Linked DNA regions of Homo sapiens: region 1 is linked to region 2. Evidence: fine-mapped expression QTL. Tissue or cell type: whole blood. Region 2 holds a variant in brackets; the other region holds the start of a gene. All regions are shown on one strand. Distances are from middle to middle.

What was found. PIP is the estimated chance that this variant, and not a neighbour inherited with it, causes the effect.
Region 1: FAAP20 starts here. The variant in region 2 is fine-mapped to the expression of FAAP20 in whole blood (TOPMed, PIP above 0.99).

What each region holds. Positions count from the first base shown.
Region 1 is chr1:2,191,618-2,199,617 of GRCh38, forward strand. FAAP20 (FA core complex associated protein 20) reads right to left here and starts at 3,155. Exons shown (of 4, transcript NM_182533.4): 1 at 3,071-3,155; 2 at 2,381-2,516; 3 at 2,022-2,293. The coding sequence starts at 3,132. It overlaps LOC112268219 (a long non-coding RNA gene), which reads left to right. Exons shown (of 1, transcript NR_168005.1): 1 at 1-841. RefSeq lists silencers at 2,910-2,999, 3,010-3,489 and enhancers at 4,123-4,789, 7,411-8,000.
Region 2 is chr1:2,056,263-2,064,262 of GRCh38, forward strand. It overlaps PRKCZ (protein kinase C zeta), which reads left to right. Exons shown (of 18, transcript NM_002744.6): 3 at 222-311; 4 at 3,279-3,329. Among named protein-coding and RNA genes, the nearest start is that of PRKCZ, 9.9 kb to the left of the region's middle. RefSeq lists an enhancer at 6,967-7,136. The variant A/T (reference allele first, on the strand shown) is at 4,969.

The DNA.
Region 1 (8,000 bases), 140 kb after region 2:
GTAATCCCAGCTACTCAGGAGACTGAGGCAGGAGAATCGCTTGAACCCGGGAGGCAGATGTTGCAGTGAGCCGAGATCATGCCACTGCACTCCAGCCTGGGCGACAGAGCGAGACACCGTCTCAAAAAAAAAAAAAAATCCCAGTGACCAACCCAGGGCCTCGCCACATCAACAGAGACAAAACGCAGCTCTGGCTCTCAACATCCTCACCCCTCACCAGGTGCCCAGCTTCCCATCCACCCACGTGACCCGCAGGTGTCTGAAAATGCACAAAATGTCCAAATAGGACCACAAGAAGATCTTAAAGACACAAAGAACATTCTACATAGTTTGTCAAATCCAGCATTTGACGGTCCTCTGGGTGACCCGGAGAACACCAAGGCTGTGAGAAATGGGAGGCCTCCTGGCAGCTCCACTCCCCAGACCCGCCTCTGCCAGGGCTCCAGGCTCAGCAGGCGCCTGTGCGGGACAGGGCGACGGTTCAAGACCAAGTCCGGCTGTTAGACCAGACCCTCCAATCCAGGCGGCCTCCCTGCTGGGGTCCTGTGCGGTCAGGAGTCCCAGGGCATCCCAGGGTGGCTGTGCAAACCCTTGTTCCCAAAGATATGGGGCTTGTCCCCCAGCTAGCCTGCCCATGCGGTGGCCACAGCCTCGGGTGAGTTCCGGTTCCAAAGTACCGGCTCTCCCTTACGATCAAGTGTTCGAATGTGCTTGAAGCATTCCAGACACACCAAGGCCTGGACCTGACTTCATTGACGCCTACTTAGGAAAAATTGAGGCAGTCTGCCAAGCTTTCAGCAACTGCTTAAAAAGCTCAAAATGGCAAGTTTTTCCTCGTGAACGTCCTTGTCTTCAGAAGTCTTTTTTTAGACTATCTGGAAAAGCAGGCGATGCAAAGACAAAAGCCCCTCCCCGGGGGGCGGGGGGCAGCACCCTGACAGCAACAAGGATCTCAGAGCTTCAGCCAAGAGCATGGATTTCTCCCCAGGGCTCCCAACAGTACCCTCTGTCCGTGATTCAGGGTCTTACTCTGTCACCCAGGCTGGAGTGCAGTGGTGCAATCATACTTCACTACAGCCTCCAATTCCTGGCTCAAGGGAATCCTCCCACTTCAGCCTCCAGAGTAGCTAGGACCACAGGCACGCGCCACCACGCCCAGGCATGTAAAGATGGGATCTTGCCATGTTGCCCAGGCTGGTCTCAAACTCCTGGGCTCCAGCAACCCACCTGCCTCAGCCTCTCAAAGGGCTGGGATTACAGGCGTGAGCCACCGTGCCCGGCCTTTTCTTTTGTTGTTGTTGTTGTTGGCTGCCAACTTTGGACTCCGGTGCCTTCGCATTCCCGAGCTGTTTTTGCTTCTGGAAGACCAGGGGCATCAGGCATGACTGAAGGACCTGGTCTCCATAAGCTCTGAAACCTGCCGCCCATTAACTCAACCAAAAGTTACGAACCAGCATCATTCACACCACCCCAGCCCCAGGACCTGCTCCGGAGGCCAAGGGCCCAGAGGTCGCCAGACACAAGGCCAGGCACTGGGCAGTTTGGGTTATCTTGTTAGCAAAACTGGGTTCCATTCCCCTTTACTTAAAAAATACATAAAAATATACGTTGGGTTTCAAAAATAAGAAAAAGCATCTCCAGACAAAAAAGACGATCTTCATTTTTAAAACCCATGACGCACTCTCGGGAAGGTGTTCCTGTGCTCTGGGCCTGGGGACGCTGGTGCCACCAGATTCCAGGATGGCCAGGTGGACCCGGGGCCAGTGCTCCCAGCCTTCCTTCTGTGCTGTTCTGTGGGCCCCCAGCCTGCCCTGCCCACAGAGCACGGCAAGCAGGTGGACCCCAGACCCGTGACAGAGAGCCACCTGGACATGCCAGGCCACAGCACTGGGCCACCTTTCCAGTGTGAAACAGGGCTTTAAAAGCCAGCGCTGAGCTCGGCCACCTCTTGACCTTCTGAACGGCTGTGGTTTCCAAACACGGATGGATAACCGGGCCGGGCGCAGGGGTGGCCTACTCACCTGGGGGCGAACTCCTTCTGGCACATGGGGCAGCTGCGCAGGGCCGCGGCACCCTCCACAGACGGCTGCTGCTCCACCCTGGGGGCCCTGCAGGGATCAGGTGCCGGGCGCTGGGGCAGGGACCTGGCGGGGGATTCCAGGTGCCCTCCTGCCCCGTGAAGCAGCCGGTAGGAACGGCCCGGGCCCCACAGGTCCGGCGGAAAGGGTGTCCAGGAAAAGGTCTTGGGTCCGACAGTGAAGACTTCAGTGGGCTCCGGGCCGCACCTGGGCTCCTGCAACACAGAGTTGTTGGGCCTTGCCCAGCGATGGCTCCCGCCCTGGAAACCCCTTCATCGCTAAGATGGGCCCAGTGGGCACACCTGTCCTGGGAAGGCGGGCAGTGAAGGCACCTCGTGATCCAGGATCAGCTCCGGGCTCACCGTGCGCAGTAGCTCGGCCCAGAGCCGCTCCCGCTCATCACCCCCCAGGAGAAACCAGGGGCGGCCGCCAGAAGGCCTGGGGCAGACAGAGAGGGCAGACAGGGGGTACTCAGTAGCGGAAACGCTATGGTGGGGAGACCCGGGAGGGCCTGGGGCAGAGAGAGCGGGGAGATGGGGGGTACTAGAGGGAAATTCGATGGTGCGGGAGGTGGCCGGCAGGGTTGGGGGAAGGGCTGCTGGGGCAGACAGTGCGGAGATGAGGGGTACTGGGGGTGGGGGAGCGGGGTGGGTGGGTGGAAATATGGGGTCCTCAGCGGGATGAGGCGATGGTTGGGGAGATTGCGGAGGGCCTGGGGAAGGTAGAGGGTTAGATGGGGGGTGCTCAGGGGAGACGCGATGATGGGAGAGGCGCGGGAGGGCCTGGGGCGGCGCGGGGGAAGCTCGGCGTGGGGTGGGGGCTCAAGGCGGGCGCTGAATGGCGGCGCGGGGTGGGGCGACGGGCGTGGGGGCCGGGCCCGGGGGCAGGGAGCCCTCCCCAGGGGGAGAATAGAGCGGGAGGCCCGCGGGGGCGCCGGGAAGCACGTGGGAGCGGGAAAACCGGCCGCGCCCCCGCCCGGCTCCCGGCCTCACCCGCCCGCCGGGCGCGGCCTCCGGCGGCTCAACCCCAGCCGCGGCCTCCGCGCCGCCTCCATCCAAGCCCGCGCCGGGCGGAAGTGAGCGCAAGCCCCGCCCCCGCCCCTCCAGGCCCCGCCCCCGCCCCGGCCCCGCCTCCAGACCTCTGCAGCGAGGCCGCCCCCCTCCGAGACAGTCGGAACCCCAGGGGCCCTGATCCCAGCCTGTAGGGAAACTGAGGCCAGGGTTCCTTCGTCCTGCACCGCACAGGGGGGCCTGGCGTGAGGGTGGGGGGCCCAGGTGGGGGAGCCCCGCCCGTGTCCCCTTTCCCGTCCGGGCAGCCCCCGGGCCGGAGCCCCCTCCGTTACCCCGATGGCTGCCCGGCCCGCCCCGGCACTGCCTCCTCCCGGCTGCACCCAACAGCTCCCGCCCCCGTTTCCGGCTCTGCGGAGCCGCCTCTCCTCCCAGGACCATTCCAGGAGTAAATAAAGCTTGAAATCCGCCGTCGCCACCACCGTTTCTTTACAAAAGGCGGGGAACTCAAGCTCCTTAACCAAGAAACCAGAGGCGAAGTGACAAAGTCCAGGTGGCTCACTTGGGCCTCAGGGGCCTGGGCCAGGGCCCTGGGGGCAGCTGAGGGGCTTTCCTGCCTGGACCCCGGGCTCTGCGACCTCAAAGTCGGCCACGTGGTGGCAGCAGCCGCCCAGGCACCCTGGTGCCACACTTGGCTGTGCCCAGTGCCCCATGGGCCCAGGCCACTTGCCTCTCCCTTGGCCCTGCTGGGCCCTGGAGTGGCTGCCACCCTCACGGAAGGAGTGGGGTCTACAGAGATCAGGGTCAGGGGCCCTCGCCAGACGCCACTCAGGGCTCTGGGACTCCTTGGCAGTTTCTGCCCTGCCCAGCCCCAGCAGCTTTGGGGCTATGCTGGGCACCCCTCCTGCAGGGCTCCCTGGCTGTTCCTACCCCTCACCTGGCCCCTCCCAGCCCCCAGTCGTCTGTGCCCTCCCTCCAGAACTCAGCTGTGGAGCCCGGCCCTGAACCCAGGCCACCCGAGTGGCCCACCGTCCTTCAAGGGGCCCCAGCCTGGAGGCCATAGGTTGGTGTTCAGGGAAAGGGTCAGCAGCAGGGCCTGGACTGGGAGGTCCCCCTCTCCCTGCATGAGTGGTTTTCTTCCGCACACCTTCCTGCTCTAGATGCTGGAGGCCCCCAGCAGAACAAGATGGAGGCACCAACCCCCAGGCCCTTCGACTTGAGTGAGCAGATGGAGATGCAGCGCTGAGTGCTGCCCGGGCAGGGGGAGGGGGCCTGGGGGAGCTGCTGCAGGCCGTGTGGTCTCAGGGGGCCCTGTGGGAGGTAGCCTGTGGCTGGGCCTGCTCTCAGGCGAGAGAAGCCCAGCCGTGGGGTCTCTGCAGCCCCACGTCCACCACATGGCAGGTGCCAGCTGACCAAGCGCTCTCAGACAGCCAGTGTCCAGGGCTCCCCGACAGTCCTGGCTGCCCTGGCTTCAGCTCCGAGCTTCTGGGTCTTTCCTGGAAATGTCACCATGGTCTGCAGGAGGGCCTTGGGTACTTCCAGGAAGACTGGTCCCAGCCTCCCAAGACAGGAGAAAAGGCCAGGCCCAGCAGCCCATGCCTGCAATTCTAGGACTTGGGGAGGTCCAGGCAGGCAGATTGCTTGAGCCCAGGAGTTTGAGACCAGCCTGGGCAACATGGCAAGACCTTGTCTCTATAAATAAAAAATTAGCTGGGCATGGTGGCATGTGCCTGTGGTCCCACCTACTTGGGTGGCTAAGGTGGGAGGATCACCTGAGCCCAGGTAGGTGGGGGCTGCAGTGAGGCAAGATCGTGCCACTGCACTCCAGACCCCAACTCAAAAAAAAAAAAAAATAGGCCAGGTGTGGTGGCTCAAGCCTGCAATCCCAGCACTTTGGGAGGCCAAGTCGGGAGGATCACTTGAGGCCAGGAGTTTGAGACCAGCCTGGCCAACATGCAGAAACCCCATCTCTACTAAAAATACAAAAATTAGCCGGGCATGGTGGTGCACACCTTTAATCCCAACTACTTGGGTGGCTGAGGCACGAAAACCACCTGAGCCTAGGAGGCATAGGTTGTGGTGAGCCAAGATCGCACCACTGCACAACAGCTTGGGCATCACAGCAAGACTCTGTCTCGAAAAACAAAAAAAGACAGAGGAGAAAAGCCCTTGGTGACAAGTGTTTGCTCAGCTCTCTGTGCCGTGCTGGGGGTGGTGGGGGGTGTTCTTGCTCCTTCCTCTCCCTTCCCCACTCTGGCTCCCAACCCCAGGGTTCTGCTGTTGGACCCGGGGGTGGCTCCTGCCTCCTCCTCCTCTATGGCCCCCACATGGTCCAGTGCCCTCCTGCCATGGGACCGGCCGGCCTCTGGATGGGCTCCGAGCCCCCTGGGACCCATCTCCTTCCCTGCCTGGGTCCCTTGGGCAGAGCCTGGGAAACTCAGGCCCCTGCCCTGTCCTGGAGGACCATGTGAGGGACACCTGTGTGTGGCTGCTGCCCCAGAACAGGGGCCTTTCTGGGCGGGAGGACCCAGCCCCCACCCCTGGAAAGCCAAACACTAGAGCTTTGCTGGGGTCTTCAGCATCCTTCCAGCCCCTCCCGGCTCCCCCATGCAGGTGCCCTGGCCACTGGGCCCAAGAGGGGCAGAGCCGAGCAGAAGCAGGGCGGGGTCTCAAGTGACCCAGACCCGGGACACCTGCGCTGCCCGGCTGGCGCAGGCTGCTTGGGAAGCTCTCGCTGCGGGTGCCCCAAGGGTAGGAGGCACGGGCCTGCAGGGGACCTCAGGGCTGGCTGAGCCTGGCTCCAGCCCGCATCACTGAAGCTGGGGGGCCCCCATCCCCTTGAGTCTTAGCCACCCCAGTGGGCCTCATTTACCCTTGGCCACCAGGGAAGAGGAGCCAGGGCCCCAGGCCAGTGCCATGGGGCAGAAGGCAGGGCCTCTGGGCCTGGTGCTTTGGGGACGCAGAGGCAGCACAACGTGTCACAGTTGTCCTCCTGGGGGCTCTTCCCCTCCAGTTTATCTGCTGCTCTGGATTAATCTCCCCTCCTCCCATGTCACCACTGGGGAGGGGGCAGTGGGGCAGGCCCCTGTGACCTACAGCCAGAGATAAGTCCACAGAGAAAGGCACTGGGGTGACCTCTGCTCTGGGCACGTGGCGGGTGCCTCCACTTGTCAGGAAGCCTGACCCCCAATCCCCTCCCGCCTGACAGCTTCCCGACAGCTGCCTGCCAGCCGAGGGCCTGGAAGGGGACCGGCCACTCAAGACTCTCAAGACAAGGAAGCATGTTCACCTCCAACAAACATACCTTGTCCTGCCTGTCCTCAAGTTATCAGCATGACACAGCGGTGCTGGTGATGGTGATGGTGGAGGTTTCAAAGTTGAACCTGATGAAAACGCTCCACTTCTTCGGAGCCATCTGCTGCTGTGGTGACGGAGTTTTGCTTTATTGGAAAATAATTTCTGGTTGGGACTGACACGTGCACAGTGGAAATGAGTTTTTTCTAAGCCAAAATTCATGTTTACAAAAGAACGTTTCAGCTGTGGGAGTTTGCATCCCAGGCAGAGCAGAAGGTGATCGAGTGGGTGGGGGCATCAGAGCCACCCATCTCCTACTCCCGCACCTGCAGACCGGTGGGCTAGGAGGCCCCTTACCCTCTGTGGCAAAAAAGGACACATTTATGGATGATGAATCAGGCCCCAGCCCACTGAGCTGGTTTCAGAAGCCAGGCTGGCCGTAGGTCAGGGAGCCAGGCCTCTCCAACTCCTTCCACCGCGGAAGAACAAGTGTCCCAGCCACTGGCATCCTCAGAGTCACCCAAATGTTCATCTCTGCCCAGCGCTGACACCCTGCAAATCAGGCTAAGACAGCGGTGACGGGCCCTGAGGCTGGCAGGCCTAAGCAGCCCGGTGGCCGTGCACCCTCCCAATTTCCAAATGAGACCTGTGGCCGACAGGCACCCTGGGCACATGCTGAAGGCACTGGGCTGCCTCCACCCCTTCCCATGTGGCTAAATGGCCCAGCACCCACACACGGTGCCCTGGCAGTGCTCACCTGCTGGCAAGGACAGCCAAAAGGCCCGGGCAGCCTTCTGACGCAGCCAGGAACTGGGCTGTGCTCCACCACACCTGCTGGCCCGTGGATGCCAGGCAGGCACGCCCACCCATAGCCAGATGTGGTGGCATTTATGGGATACGGGAGTGCCAGGCAGACAGGCTGTGAGAGACAGTTGCCTGGGAAACATCGCCAGATCTTTGGGGCAGCAGAGCAGGTGCTCGGGCCCACACATGGGGTGCAAGAGTAGGGGTGTGCCTTGGTGCCCTTGGGCACCGACAGCCTCCTCACAGCCTCAGTGGCGGGGTCATGGCACAGGCCTGCCCCTGACCCCAAGAACCAGAAAGCCAGGAGCAGCTGGGGAGGGCCCTGGCCCGGGAGAGACAGCGGTCCTGTTTCTGAACCCCATCCCAGCCATGGCCTGTGTCTGGGCCAGCATCCCCGACCAGACAGGGCCAGCCGCCCTCTCTCAAAGTCCCCAGCACCCCTTCAAGCAGTATCCGGTTCACACCCTCCCACAGCCTGTCCTCCATCCCCACGTGTCGGGCTCAGCTTCCGCACCACTCAGCCCCCACCCAGGGGCGGGCTTTTATCAGCCCCAGATCCTGCTCTGACGTCCCCCCGCCCGGAGAAGCTTCCCCAGCCCAGCCCAGCCCAGCCCAGCCCAGGCTTCTCTCTCCACCCCACTGCCCTGCTGGGAAATTGTGAGCTCAGATGCTGATTGGTCTACCCAGGAGGGCGGTCCTGTGTGCTCTGTTCCCTGGGAAGCCTCTCAGAGTGCGCGGCACCAAGGAGCCGGTCAGGGAGTGGAGACCTCTCAGGGCACCCCTCCTCTGGGGAAGGCAAGTCACAGAAACCAAGCTG
Region 2 (8,000 bases):
ACTTCCCTTCCGGGGTGGCTCTGACGCTGCACCGGGGGCCAGGTGACTCCCTAGTGTGGACGGCCGTCCTTGGACCTCCCGACCCTGCCAGGAGGTGGCCAGTCTGAGCATCGGGACTTTGCCCCCCACCAGACCCTTGTCTGGTGTGCTGAGCGGGCTCGTCACAGCCCCCTTTGCCTCGGGCCTTCGGCGACGTCAGCACCGTCTCCTGCCCCACCCAGGTGACCCTTGCACGGTGTCCTCCCAGATGGAGCTGGAAGAGGCTTTCCGCCTGGCCCGTCAGTGCAGGGATGAAGGCCTCATCATTCATGGTTAGTGGCGGGGTCTGTGGTGGGCAGCTCTGGGGGGCTGTTCCTGGCTGTGGGTGTCTGCCGACTAGCTGGGGGATTTAAAATGGTTTAAAATCCTATGATGCCAGAGAATTTAGGGATGTCTAATATAATGCCATTTGGGTTTTTTTCTTTGACTTTTTTTTTTTTTTTTTGAGACGGAGTCTTGCTCTGTTGCCCAGGCTGGAGTGCAGTGGCACAATCTCAGCTCACTGCAAGCTCCGCCTCCTGGGTTCATGCCATTCTCCTGCCTCAGCCTCCCGAGTAGCTGGGACTACAGGCGCCCGCCACCACGCCCGGCTAATTTTTTGTATTTTTTGTAGAGACGGGGTTTCACCGTGTTAGCCAGGATGGTCTCAGTCTCCTGACCTCGTGATCTGCCTGCCTCAGCCTCCCAAAGTGCTGGGATTACAGATGTGAGCCACCGCGCCCGGCCTTTTCTTTGACATTTTATTAACCCAAATGAAAACTGCTCTTAACAAAGAACCCGTAAACCACTCAGAGGCTCCAGTGGCCAGCGTAGGGCCCGCGGCGCATGTGGACAGAGGGGACAGCCCCACCAGCCACCTCACCTGCCCGGTGCTCCCTAGGCCCGGCTCCAGGCTCACAGCTGTCCTCAGCTTTAAGTTCAAAGCCCCATGATGAGCTGACGCATGGGAGATGTGATTGTGATCATTTCCACTTTGTCTTTAGGTGGGCGTGGGCTCCTCCCCGGTACTGCTGGGGGTCTGCAGGGCGTCTGGGGCCTGGGAATGTGGTTCCAGCGCTGTGGCCAGCCGGTCACGTCTTTGTCTCTGTGTCCACTTCTGGCGTAGCTTGGGCTCCTTGCCAGGCGTCTGGCCATGGACGATTGAGTCCAAGATGGGACCAAAGCTCGAAACCACCCATGGATTTCTGACAGATCCATCATTCTCCTGGACACCGGGCTACCTGGTTACAACACTTAATTTTCTTCGCCCTTTATATCAATGAGGCTCTAAATTTAAAGACTAGGCCGGGTGCGGTGGCTCACAACTGTAATCCCAGCACTTTGGGAGGTCAAGGTGGGAGGATCGCTTCAGCCTAGGAGTTCAAGACCAACCTGGGCAACATAGTGAGACCCCCCCCTCTCCAAAACTTGTTTTATTTTTTTGAGACAGAGTCTGGCTCTGTCCCCAGGCTGGAGTGCAGTGGCACTATCTCTGTTCACTGCAACCTCCACCTCCCAGATATAAGCGATTGTCCTGCCTCAGCCTCCCGAGTAGCTGGGACTACAGGCATGTGCCACCACACTTGGCTAATTTTTTTTTTTTTTTAGTTGGAGTCTCGCTCTGTCGCCCAGGCTGGAGTGCAGTGACGCGATCTCAGCTCAATGCAACCTCCGCCTCCCGGGTTCAAGCAATTCTTCTGCCTCACCCTCCCAAGTAGCTGGGACTACAGGCATGTGTCATCACGCCTGGCTAATGTTTTGTATTTTTAGTAGAGACGGAGTTTCACCATGTTAGCCAAGATGGTCTCGATCTCCTGACCTCGTGATCCACCCGCCTCAGCCTCCCAAAGTGCTGGGATTACAGGCGTGAGCCACGGTGCCCGGCCTAATTTTTGTATTTTTAGTAGAGATGGGGTCTCGCCATGTTGGCCAGGCTGTTCTCAAACTCCTGACCTTAGGTGATCTGCCTGCCTCAGCTTCCTGAAGTGTTGGGATTACAGGCGTGAGCCACGGTGCCCGGCCCCAATTTTTTTTTTTTTTTTTTTTTTTGATATTCAGACGTGGTGGTGCACCTGTAGTCCCAGTTACTCGGGAGGCTGAGGTGGGAGGATTCCTTGAGCACAGGAGGTAGAGGCTACAGTGAACTGTGATTATTCCACTGCACTCTAGCCTGAGTGATGGGGCGAAACCCTGTGTCAGATAAATAAATTCATAGATGTGCCTAATCTAGTCCTTTTTATTGTGGTTGTGATAGTAAGCACATTTTGCCTCTCTATGTGGAAAGATACAGTGGCTTAAAAATTCACATTGTTTTCTAGATAAAAGAAAAATAGGGCTGGGTTCAGTGGCACACACTTGTAATCCCAGCACTTTGGGAGGCCGAGGCAGGTGGATCACTTGAGGTCAGGAGTTCAAGACCAGCCTGACCAACATGGTGAAACCCCATCTCTACTATAAATACAAAAATTAGCCGGGCGTGGTGGTGTACACTTGTAATCCCAGCTACTTGGGAGGCTGAGGCAGGAGAACTGCTGGAACCCGAGAGGTGGAGGTTGCAGTGAGCTGAGATTGTGCCACTGAGCTCCAGCCTGGGCACAGAGTGAGACTCCATCTGAAAAAAACCAACAAAAAACAAAAAATGTTTGTTTTTTTAAAGTTTCAATACTTTTATGTGTATACACACACACATAAAAAAGTAGAGATGGGGTTTCGTCATGTTGGCCAGGCTGGTCTTGAACTCCTGGCCTGAAGCCATCCTCTCATCTCGGCCTCCCAAAGTGCTGGGATTGCAGGCGTGAGCCATCATGTCCAGCCAAGTTTTAATACTTTCTAAGCACCTATTTTAATAATTTATTGTGGAAGCCCAGGATATATGTTAAAATAATTTTGAACTCTGTCTTGAGTATGAAGAAGTGGAATCTAAAGTGCTTTTAAAAGTCAGTGTTCAAAGTAATTGCATTTCTTTCCCATTTTTATATAGTTTAAAAATACAAATCAGTAGCTTCCTCTGATGGCTTTGCTGTCCAGGTCCCTCTGATTGCCTTTTACTCTAAGTTTTTCCGTGGGTTTTAAAGTCGGAGCCTGGCCTACGTAGACGCACGGGGTTTTGCGTCTCCCAGGAGCGGGCTCTCATTGGCAGTGCCACGTGCGCCTTGCGTGAAGTCCACGTGCTCAGCCTGACTGAGGCGGGACTTCCTCCGTGAGACTGTTGAGTGGCAGCCGCAGGGTCTTGACGCTGTCTCTTTCTCTCTCTTGTCCAGTTTTCCCGAGCACCCCTGAGCAGCCTGGCCTGCCATGTCCGGGAGAAGACAGTGAGTACTGGGGTTTCCTACGCCGGTCTCGCATGTTACGGGGTTGAACTGTTGATCCGTTGTGCCACGGAGGTGGCAGTGGTGCCGTTTTCGGAGGTTCACCCTCGTGGAGCGTCAGGGCAGGAGCAGCCGTGGTGACCGCAGGTGGGGTTTTCACTGCAGCTGCTGCCTGTGCGTGTTCTGGCTGACAGCACCACATGGCGGGGGACTCGCTTGGCTGGTTGGTAGCATGAGAAGTCCAGGGGTGCCCTGCCGTCTCCCTAGGAGGGAGGGGCCAGGTGGGAGGCTGGACACTGCTCCTTTGTGGCTGCCTCAGCTCACGACCACCCCTAGGCCAGTCGTCTGCTCCTCCTGGTCCCTGCTGGCCCCTGAGCTGGTGTGGGGGCTCCGTTCATCCCACACTGGCTCCATTGTTGGGAGAGGAAGGAGAGTGAGTCCCGGGGGCTGTGGCTTCAGAGGGAAGCTTCTGACCTCACTTCCTACTGCATCCCGGAGACTGTTGGGCCCTGAGCAGGTGGCTACGCTGCTCTCGGGCCGCGCATCCCATGGCTGTGCTTGGTGGGGTTCCACCCCCACTCTCCAGACCCCACACGGCCTCCAGCATCCGTGCCATGCCTTGTTCGTTGTGTGGGCAGGAGCTCCTGGACCGAGGCCGCTGCCTGTCCAGCGCAGGGCACGTGGCTCAGTGCCCTTCAGGCAGGGCTTCCCCCACCCCTGCTGCCAGGGCACACACCTCGCTGGCCTCAGGCTGGATGCTGGGTGTTGGCAGTGCCCTGTGTTGGGCGGGAACTGGGGGTGGGAGCAGATTCAGGCCAAGAGGGTGAGTGGGCAGTTGGGGCGAGAGTCTTGGCTTCCAGTGAGAAGTGGGGCTGAATAGAGGTTTGGCAGTGCTTAGCATAGGGGGCGAGAGTCTCGGCTTCCAGCGAGAAGTGGGGCTGAATAGAGGTTTGGCAGCGCTTAGCGTAGGGGAGGCCCCAGGAGCCATGGGATTTCCATGATCTGCCCGGGGAGAGGGCGGCGTGGCATCCCGGTTCCAGGCCCTCAGCCAACCGGGGTCCCTGCACCGTGGCCGGCAAGGCCGAGGAGCCATCCGGAGGTGGGCCCTGGCAGGAATGGAGCGGGTGGTCTGGGGCTGGACCTGCCGGCAGGAGGAGATGGGGTATGTCCGTGGCAGGCGGACACCACCAGGTGGTTTTGGCAGCGCAGGGCGAGTGTGAGGAGGCAGGGGGCGGGGAGGCTTTGGAGGCAGGTGGCCAGACGGTGGGCGTCAGGGCCCTGATCACCTACGCAGCTGCCCTGGTGGTGACCTTTCCCGGGACCCTCCCTCTGGGTGCCCACGCCTCACGGACCCTGGAGCACGCACCCTGGGAGGGCACGGTTCACTGCGTTTTTATAGATACATAAACACATAAATAGGACAGATACTCCCTGTGGGTGAGACGATGGTTGTCCCCTCCACAGCGCCCTGCAGCCTCATGCTGCTGCTTTATAGGAGGGGACCCACGGGCCGTGTTTATTTGCCACCTGGGTGATTTTTTGACTTGGTGACAGGACTGTGCTCCTCTGTCCCATGTGTGCTGAGACTGTGCACTCCCAGAGGTATCCACATGCGGCCAGTGTAGCCCCTGGGCGCGGGGGA[A/T]GCCCACCGTATTTCTCCGACATGTCTGCCTCTTGTCTCAACCCTGCCTGGGGGCCTGGGGTCTGCTCTTTCTGTCTACGACCTCGGCATTGCCTCTCTGCCCGTGTGGACAACCTGCCGGCCTTGCGTAGGGAAGGGAGGCCCGCATTTGCTCGGCCACTGCAGTGGAGGAAGGGGAGGTTGGGGGGTCACAGGATGTCCAGAGGCCTGAGCTCTGAAGGGGAGTGTGTCATGGGGGTGGCAGCCGAGTCACCGTGGGGAATGCGGAGAATGTGGCCAAGCCCCGAGGAAGGACCTCCTGGGACACGTGAGTAGGTCCTTGAGATGTTTACCAGGGGTGGCTCCACGGCTTCGGGGACCACTCAGCCTGGTTGGGGACATTCCGCCAGAGCCTCTGGGGCAGCCTTTGCCGAGGAGGTCAGAGGCGGGTGCTGGGGGTGGGGAGCCCTGCCCTGCCCTGTGTGCTGATGTCCACCCGGACGTGGGTTGGGTTTCATGGCGCTAGTGTCAGGAGTGTGTGAGAACACACTGCCCACTCGGGGTCCCAGGCCACCAGGGCTTAGGGGGCTGGCGCTCTCCCTGATGTCCTGTGCTTTCTTTCACTCTGACTGTGGTGCTCATCTCAGACAGGACACCCTGCTCTGGTTGCCAGTGGCCGCCGCCTGGGGCTCTGTGGTTTTAGCGCCTGTGGGGGTGTTCACAGGTGTTTTTGACCTCAGGCAGCACTGCCCAGGCTGAGGGTCAGTGAGAAGGGTCGGACTGGGAGGTGTGTACAGTGGATGGAGCACGCCAGAGGCAGACGAGGGCAGGACTGCGGCTGTACCGTGGGCCTGGTTCAGACGGCTGGACGTGCCTGTCTCACCGTCAGCAGAGGACCTTCTGGCACATTCTATGTGTGTCTATATGAGTGAATTGGTTTTATAGATTTTTAAAAAAATTCTAAAGTATACTTACAACTATCATCTCTATGTAGTTACAAACCCAAAATATATTCAAAAAGGGAACCCCGTGCCCGTCATCGGTCACTCCCTGTTCTGCCCCAGCCCCACCTCCGCTCAGCCTCTGTCTCTGTGGCCCTGCGGATTCTGGACGTTTGGTGTCCGTGGAATCCTGCATGTTTGTCCTTTTGCCTCTAGTGGCTTTCACCCGCCTGACCTTTCCAAGGTTCATCCATGATGGGGCATTCTTGGCGCTGCAGATCTTTTTTCTATTCTGGTAAAATGCACATAACATCTATTTTTGCCATCTTAACTTTTTTTTTTTTTTTTTTGGCAGAGGGGGGACGGAGTTTTGTTCTGTCACCCAGGCTGGAGTGCATGGTACAATCTTGGCTTACTACTACTCTGCCTCTCAGGCTCAAGCGGTCCTCATGCCTCAGCCTCCCGAGTAGCTGGGATTACAGGTGTGTGTCACCACACTTGGCCGAGTTTTTCTTTTTGTAGAGTTGGGGTTTTACCATGTTGCCCAGGCTAGTCTCGAACTCCTGGGCTCAAGTGACCTACCCATCTTGGCCTCCCAAAGTGCTGGGATTATAGATGTGAGCCACCGAGCCTGTCCCCATCTTAGCCATTAAAATTTAAAGGTTCAATTCACTGGTATTCGATATTCGCATTGCTGTCCAGTCATCATCACCGCCCATCTCCAGAACTCTCTTCATCTTCCCAGACTCAGCCTCTGTCTCCATGAAACACTCACTCCCCATTCTGCCTCCCCCAGCCCCCATCACCCACCCGCCGCTTTCTGTTTCTGTGACTTTGGTGACTCTAGGGGCCTCCTGTGAGTGGAATCGCACAGGATCTGTCCTTTTGTGACAGCTTATTTCACTCAGCACCATGTCCTCAAGGCGCAGCCATGCGTAGCCTGTGTCACAGTCTCCTTCCTTCTCAAGACTGAACCGCAGGCTGCTGTATGGATGTATTTTGTTTACCCATTTCTGTCAGTGGACACACGGGTGACTTCCACAGTTTAGCTGTCGTGAATGATGCTGCTGTGAGCACGGGTGCACAGTGACCTCTGGAGACCCTGCCTTCAGTTCTGGGTGTAGACCCGGAAGTGAGATTGCTGGATCATTGATCATTCTATTTTTATTCATTTATTTTTGAGATAGCGTCTCGCTCTGTCGCTTAGGCTGGAGTTCAGTGGCACGATCTCGGCTCACTGCAGCCTCCATCTCCTGGGCTCAAGCGATTCTCCTGTCTCAGCCTCCCAAGTAGCTGGGACTAAAGGCATGTGCCACCACGCCCAGCTAATTTTTGTACTTTTTGTAGAGACAGGGTTTCATCATGTTGCCCAGACTGGTCTTGAACTCCTGGGCTCAAGCAGTCTGCCCACCTCGGTCTCCCAAAGTGTTGGGATTACAGGCGTGAGCCACTGCACCTGGCCGATAATTCTGTTTAAAGAGCCGCCGTGCCATTTCCCATGGTGCCTGCAGCATTTTCCACCCCCTGCAATAGTGCACGAGCGCCACTGTCTCCGCATCCTTTCCAGCTCTTGTCGTTTTCTGTTTTTTGACAGTATCTTATGGGCGTGAGGTGGCATATCATTGTGGTTTTGGTTCTCATTTCCCTGGTGATAAGTGATGTTGAGCATTTTTTCATGTGCCTGTTGGCCATTTCTTTTTTTTTTTTTTTTTTGAGTTGGAGTCTTGGTCTGTTGCCCAGGTTGGAGTGCAGTGGCACGATCATGGCTCACTGCAATCTCCGCCTCCCAGATTCAAATGATTCTCCTGTCTCAGCCTCCTGAGTAGCTGGGATTACAGGCACCCGCCACCATGTCCAGCTAGTTTTTGTATTTTTAGTAGAGTTGGGGGTTTCACCATCTTGGCCAGGTTAGTCTTGAACTCCCGACCTCAAGTGATCCACCCACCTCGGCCTCCCAAAATGCTGGGATTATAGGCGTGAGCTGCCGTGCCCGGCTTTGTTGGCCATTTCTGTGTCTTCTTTGGTGAAATGTCTTTTCGCGTCCTGTGTCCATTTTTGAATGGGTTGTTTGGTTTTTTTGTTGGTGAGTGTTACTAGTTCTCTGTCCTGGAT